Linked DNA regions of Homo sapiens. The protein of the gene in region 2 purifies or fractionates together with the protein of the main gene of each other region. This does not show direct contact. Each region holds a gene or a part of one and is shown on either strand. Other genes may lie near its edges.

Region 1 (3,500 bases), on a different chromosome or scaffold from region 2:
GCCGGGAGAATTCATGCTTTTGAAACAAGGGGAATTTCCCTTGTCCCTCTTACAGGGCATGTGATGGGAGTGTGGCCCACTTCTTAGGTGCCCCACTGCTCAAAACCCCTAGGGAAAGCAGGCAGATGGGCAGGTCGTGGGGAGTGTGGGCTCCAACCCCATGGCAGCGTCTAGGGGTGGATGTTTACAGCTTCTGCAGCCCCAGTGGGCGTGTGTTACGTGTGCTCTTTTAGTTTTGCTGTCAGTAGGCAGCTTGTGTTCATCAGCTCAGTTAGACCCTCTGCCTTATTGCAAGGACAGAGGGCTTTCTGTATCCTAGGGTTCTTGCCTGAGTATACCAGAAAAACCGGATCACACGTGGGCTTGGAGGATGAGTGCAAGGTTTTATTGAATGGTGGAAGTAGCACTCAGCAGATGGAAACGGAGCCAGAAGGGGTATGGAGTGGGAAGGTGGTTTTCCCCTGGAGTCAGGCCGCTTAGCAGCCAGGCTCTCCTCTGACCGCCCTCAGCCAAACTCCGCGTTGTCCTGCCGTTCTGCTGTTGGTGGCCTGCCGGAGTCTGTCACTGTGTTCTTCTGCTGGTATGTTGTTCCTTGCCTCTGCTTCTCTTGACGTCCAGCCGCTTGTGTGCCTGCCCGCTAGGGTCTCGGGGTTTTTATAGGCACAAGATGGGAGTGTGGTGGGCCAGGGTGGTCTTGGGAAATACGATATTTGGGCACAAAAACAGAAATGCCTGTCCTCACCTAGGTTGGTGGGCACAGGCCCAGGGGTGGAGCCCTAGCCAGGGACCACGCCCTTCTCTACCCAGCATTTCCCTGCCTGCCCCTCCCGTATCACTTTTCTTTTATTTATTTACTTTTTGAGACAGGGTCTCGCTCTGTTGCCCAGGCTGGAGTGCAGTGGCAGTATCTTGGCTCACTGCAATCTCCACCTCCTGGGTTCAAGCGATTCTTGTGCCTCAGCCTCCCTTATTTTATTTTTTAATCTGTCCCAGGCCAAGTGCAGTGGTTCACACCTATAATCCCAGCACTTTGGGAGGCCGCGGTGGGTGGATCGTTTGAATCCAGGAGTTTGAGACCAGCCTGGGCAACATGGCAAAACCCTGTCTCTACAAAAATTACAAAAATGAGCTGGACATGGTGGTGCATGCCTGTAGTCCCAGCTATTTGGGAGACAAGACAGGAGGAGTGCTTGAACCTGGGATGGGAAGGTTGCAGTGCAGCAGAAATCCTGCTGCTGCACTCCAACCTAGGCAACAGTGTGAGACCCTGTGTAAAAAAAAAAAAAAAAGTTTGTCCATTTATTTACATCTATCAAGTTCTTCCTACCAGAATGGAAGCCCTTTCAGGGTGAGGATATGTCTTACTCCATATTCCTATTTCTATGGCTGTGCCTAACACACAAGGCATGCTCAATAATTGTTTATTTCCTGCTCAAATGAGACAAAAGGAAATGGATGGAGGAGAGGTGGAAAATAAATGAGTGATTGATTTCTCTCTAACTATTTAGGCATGATTTAGCATCTTGGAAATCATATTACTGAGATTTGCAGTGCCTGTAATGTGAAAGATGAGGCTATTCTGTAATACAAAACGTAATGCCAGCTAAAATATAACAAAAATATCTGTTGAAACGTATGGCTGCAAATTCCCATATTTCAGAAGCAAATAAAGAGCTGAAAGCCATTAAGAAAAAAAAGGGTGGTTGTTACTTTAACTGGTTTAAAAACAATTGATACATCTTGAAGTATTAAGTGTGCATCTTGAGGTCTTAATTTCAATGCAGTTTTGCTACAGATTTCTTTTGCTTCCACGATACAGATTAGCCAGCTAGTGCTGACATTAGTTCATGTGGTTTGTGCCCATCACAATTATTAGGCAGAACCAGCAGCACCAGGATACAACCTAAGGAGATCAACGTCCCTCCTAGAAAACTGCCACGGCCTTCGCAGGAGGGGTCTGAATTTTTTTTTTTTTTTTTTTTTTTTTTTTTGAGGTGGAGTCTCGCACTGTCACCCAGGCTGGAGTGCGGTGGCACAATCTTGGTTCACTGCAACCTCCACCTCCCAGGTGCAGGTGATTCTCCTGCTTCAGCCTTCTGTGTAGCTGGGATTACAGGTGCCCGCCACCACGCCCAGCTAATTTTTTTTTTTTTTTTGTAATTTTAGTAGAGACGGGATTTCACTATGTTGGCCAGGCTGGTCTCGAATGCCTGACCTGGTGATCCACCCACCCGCCTCTGCCTTCCAAAGTGCTGGGATTACAGGCGTGAGCCACTGCGTCCAGCACATTTTTTATATTCACAATTAAATTAATAAACCATAACTCTCCTCCTCTCAGCCCATCTTTTTTTTTTTTTTTTTTTTTTTTTTTTTTTAGTGGAGCGATTATTTTGTGTGTGTGAAACAGAGTCTCACTCTATTGCCCAGGCTGGAGTGTAGTGGCATGATCATGGCTCACTGAAGCCTCAAACTCAAGAGTTCTCCCACCTCAGTCTCCTGAGTAGCTGGGACTACAGGCACACACCACCATGCCTGGCTGATTTTTTAAAAAAATATATTTTGTAGGCCAGGTGCACTGGCTCACACCTGTAATCTCAGCACTTTGGGAGGCCGAGGCGGGCGAATTACCTGAAGTCGGGAGTTCGAGACCAGCCTGGCCAACATGGCAAATCCCCATCTCTACTAAAAATACAAAAATTAGCCGGGTGTGGTGGCAGACGCCTGTAATCCCAGCTACTTGGGAGGCTGAGGTAGAAGAATCGCTTGAACCTGGGCGTTGGAGGTTGCAGTGAGCTGAGATCACGCCACTACACCGCAGCCTGGGTAACAGAGCAAGACTCCATCTTGAAAACATAAAAATAAATAAAAATAAAATAAAGCACAGTAAGCCTTTCAGGGTGGGGAGTGGCTGAGGTTATGAATATGCTCATGTTCTGCACATTCGGTCTGTAACATAGAGAGGTTTAAGATTGCTTCTGCATTTCAGGTAATTCAGAGGTCCGTGGGGCCAGCCAGCCTGAGCTTGCTCACCTTCAAAGTCTATGCAGCACCAAAAAAGGACTCACCTCCCAAAAATTCCGTGAAGGTTGATGAGGTAACATGTTGTTCATGTTGCGATATATTTTGAGTGTCTGATTTAGTTACTGTAGGATAATTTTTTACAAATTGTATATCAGGAAGATGTGACTGTTTAAAATACATTTATTTATTTATTTATTTATTTATTTATTTATTTATTTTGAGACGGAGTTTCGCTCTTGTTGCCCAGGCTGGAGTGCAATGGTGCGATCTCGGCTCATTGCAACCTCCTCCTCCTGGTTCAAGCCATTCTCCTGCCTCAGCCTCCCAAGTAGCTGGGATTATAGGCATGTGCCACCACGCCTGGCTAATTTTGTATTTTTAGTAGAGACAAGGTTTCACCATGTTGGCCAGGCTAGTCTCGAACTCCCGACCTCAGGTGATCCACCTGCCTCGGCCTCCCAAAGTGCTGGGATTACAAG
Region 2 (4,031 bases):
GTAGTTTTAGGTGTTCTGTACCAGGAAGTTTTTCTGCAAATCAAGTTAGCCATATTGCACTGTTGGTGTGTCTGTTTTAAAGTTGTAACAGATGGGGCCGGGTGCTGTGGCTCACGCCTGTAATCCCATCACTTTGGGAGACTGAGGCCGGCAGATCACATGAGGTCAGGAGTTCGAGTCCAGCCTGGCCAACTTGGTGAAACCTTGTCTCTATTAAAAATTAAAAAATTAGCTGGGCGTAGTGGTAGGCGCCTGTAGTCCCAGCTACTCGGGAGGCTGAGGCAGGATTATCACTTGAACCCAGGAGGCAGAGGTTGCAGTGAGGCACTGCACTCCAGTCTGGCCGACAGAGCGAGACTCTACCTCAAAAATAAATAAATAAAATAAAATTATAACAGTATCAGCTCTTTCTGTATCTTGTTTTTTTCCATCCAACATTATTTTCAAGATCTTTTCAGGTAGTGATAGACAGAAAAGTTAATCTAATTTATTCATTTTATCACTCTCACATGTTCCTTTAATATGACTGCCATATTCTATTTATTGGTGGATCTTTAGACTGAAGTTCTTTTGTGTTATGAATAGTTTTGCCTTGAAATGAAATGTTTGCACTGAGCAAGAGGTTTTTTAGGTTCCTTATTTAAGTAGTTACATGATAGACACATTTTTATCTTACACGTGGCAGTCAGAATTTACATTTATGGGCTAGACACACTGACTCATACCTGTAATTGCAGCACTCTGAGAGTCCATGATGGGCAGATCACTTAAGCCCAGAAGTTCAAGACCAGCCTGGGCAACATGGCGAAACCTCGTCTCTACAAAAAAATACAAAAATTAGCTGGGTGTGGTGGAGTGTGCCTGTAGTCTCAGCTACTTGGGAGACTGAGGTGAGATCACTTGAGTCTGGGAGGTTGAGGCTTGCTGTGAGCCAAGATCACTCCAGTGCACTCTAGCCTGGGCAACAAAACGAGAACCTATCTCAAAAAAAGAAAAAAAAAAAAGAAATTACATTTATGTCATCAATGGAAGAGAGTGCCATTTTTTTATCCCTCTTTCCATATTAGATGTCAGAGTTTATTAGAAAAGATTAAAAAATGGTATTTCATTTTATTTTTTTGGACAGCTACCATGTTTAAAAATTTGTTTAAATGCTTATTTGATCATTTGGTATCTTTCTTTTTCATAGTAGATTCATTTTTAATAATGAAATAAACTAGAAATATTCTACATGTATATGACCTGGAGGTTGGTTCTATATAGCATTGTAAACCACCAGTAGAATAGTGTGCAATAATTAAATAGCTTGGGTACATGTACATTTATTGACATGGAAAAATATTCAAAATATATTGTTAATAAAACAGAGCAGTTTGTATTATGGCTAAGAGTAAATGCTAGGGAGTCAGTTGGCTTGGGTTCACAGCCTAATTCAGCCTTTTGACTGAGTGGCCTTAGACAAATCACTTAATTTTTAAAAAAAATTAGTTTTTTAAATTGACAAAAAATTGTATTTATTTATCATGTACAATATATTTTGAAATATGTATACATTGTGAAATGGCTTAACTGAGCAAATTAATATGCATTACCTCACATTCTTAACATTTTTGTGGTGATAACAATTAAAATGTATTCTCTGAACAGTTTTCAAGGATACAACAGTGTTATTAACTAGCAACACCATGTTGTACAATAGATCTCTTGAAATTATTCCTCCTAACAGAAACTGTATATACTTTGATGAGTATCTCCCCATCCACCCCACCCACTGTGTCCCCACATCCCCTAGTAACCATCATTGTCTTTCTACTTCTATAAGTTCACCTCTTTTGTTTTTTTGATGGAGTCTCACTCTGTCTCCCATGCTGGAGTGCAGTGGTGCAATCTCAGCTCACTGCAAGCTCCCCCTCCCGGGTTCACGCCATTTTTCTGCCTCTGCCTCCCTAGTAGCTGGGACTGCAGGCACCCGCCACCACACCCGGCTAATTTTTTGTATTTTTAGTAAAGACGGGGTTTCACCGTGTTAGCCAGGATGGTCTCGATTTCCTGACCTCGTGATCTGCCCACCTCGGCCTCCCAAAGTGCTGGGATTACAGGCATGAGCCACCGTGCCCGGCCTGTAAGTTCAACTTTTTAACACACCACTTGTAAGTGAGATTATGTGGTGTTTGTCTTTCTATGCCTGTCTTACTTTCCTTAATATAATGTTTTCCAGGTACATCCATGTTGTTACAAATGACAGGATTTCTCTCTTTTATGGGGCTGAATAGCATTCCATTGTGTATATATACCACATTTTCTATCCATTCATCCATTGATGGATACTTAGGTTGATTCCATATCTTGGCTATTGTGAACAATGCAGCAATGGCCATAGGAGTCCTGATCTCTCTTCACTACTGATTTCATTTCCTTTGGATATATACCCAGTATTGGGATTGCAGGATCATATGGTAGTTTTATTTTTTGAGAAACTTTCATACTGTAATGCTTATACTAATTACATTTCCACCAACAGTATACAAAGGATTCCCTTTTCTTCACATTTTTTTTTAACACTTTTATCTTTTCAATAATGGCCATTCTAACAGGTCATAATTTATTTTGGTTTCCATTTGCATTTTTCTGATGATTAGTAATGTTGAGCATTTTTTATATACCTCTTGGCAATTTGTGTGTCTTCTTTTTGGAAATGTCTATTCAGATCCTTTGTCCAATTCTTAAAAAACGATTATTTTTAAAATTCATTTTATTATTTAGAGACAGAGTCTCAATATGTTGCCCAGGCTGTACTTGGACTCCTAGGCTCAAGAATTCTCCTGCCTCAACCTCTGAAGTAATTGAGACTGTGGGCATACGCCACTGCATCCTGCTCTTTTGCCCATTTTTTTTTTAATGGGGTTGTTTTCTTATTGAGTTTCTTATATATTTTGGATATTAACCTTTTATCTGATACATGATTTGGATATATTTTCTCCCATTCCATAGGTTGTCTCTTCACTCTGCTGATTGTTTCCTTGGCTGTGCAGAAAGTTTTTAGTTTGATATAATCCCATTCATGTATTTTTGCTTTTGTTTTCTGTGCTTCTGGGTTTATGTCCAAAAAACCATTCCCCAGACCAATGTCATGGAGTTTTTCCTCTGTTTTTTTCTAGGACTTTTGCAGTTTCAAATGTTAAATTTAAGCCTTTAATACATTTTGATATTCATTCTTCTAGCCAATGAGCCTGGAATGTTTTTCCATTTGTTTGTACCTTCTCTGATTTCTTTGAGCAGTGTTTTGTAGTTTTCATTGTAGAGATCTTTCACCTCCCTGGTTGACTGTATTTCCAGGTATTTTATTCTTTTTATGGCAATTGTGAATGAGGTTGCATTCCTGATTTGCCTCTAGACTTGACTACTGCCCAAAGCAATTTATATATTTAATGCTAATCCTGTCAAACTTCCAGTGACATTCTTTGCAGAGCTAGAAAAAGCTCTTTTAAAATTCCTATGGAACCCAAAAAGACCCCAAATAGCTAAGGCTATCCTAAGCAAAAAGAAGAAAGCAGGTGGTATCATGCTACCTGACTTCAAACTGTATTAAAGGGCTACAGTAACCAAAACAGCATGGTATTGGTAGAAAAACAGACACATAGACCAATGGAACAGAATACAGAGCCCAGAAATAAGACCACACACCAACAACCATCTGATCTTCAACAAAGCTGATGAAAACAAGCAATGGGGAAAGGATTCCCTATTCAATAAATAGTGCTGGGATAACTGGCTAACCATGTGCAGAAGATTGAAACCGGACCTCTTCCTTAAACTACATACAAAAATCAACTCAAGATGAGGGACTTACATATAAAACCCAAAACTGGAAAAACCCTGGAAGACAACCTAGGCAATACCATTCTGGACACAGGCATGGGCAACGATTTCATGATGAAGATGCCAAAAGCAATTGCAACAAAAGCAAAAATTGACAAATGGGATCTAATTAAACTAGAGAGCTTCTACACAGCAAACAAAACTATCAACAG

Evidence for each region.
Region 1: the proteins of PARPBP (region 2) and APOO purify together in Homo sapiens (affinity purification with mass spectrometry; one large-scale study listed by BioGRID and IntAct). This does not show direct contact.

Annotation. Positions count from the first base shown.
Region 1 is NC_000023.11:23,880,439-23,883,938, reverse strand, and holds part of APOO (MICOS complex subunit MIC26 precursor), read left to right. Parts: intron 1-2,986; coding exon 2,987-3,094; intron 3,095-3,500. UniProt on the Homo sapiens protein: Component of the MICOS complex, a large protein complex of the mitochondrial inner membrane that plays crucial roles in the maintenance of crista junctions, inner membrane architecture, and formation of contact sites to the outer membrane.
Region 2 is NC_000012.12:102,126,410-102,130,440, forward strand, and holds part of PARPBP (PCNA-interacting partner), read left to right. Parts: intron 1-737; exon of another isoform or gene 738-890; intron 891-4,031. UniProt on the Homo sapiens protein: Required to suppress inappropriate homologous recombination, thereby playing a central role DNA repair and in the maintenance of genomic stability.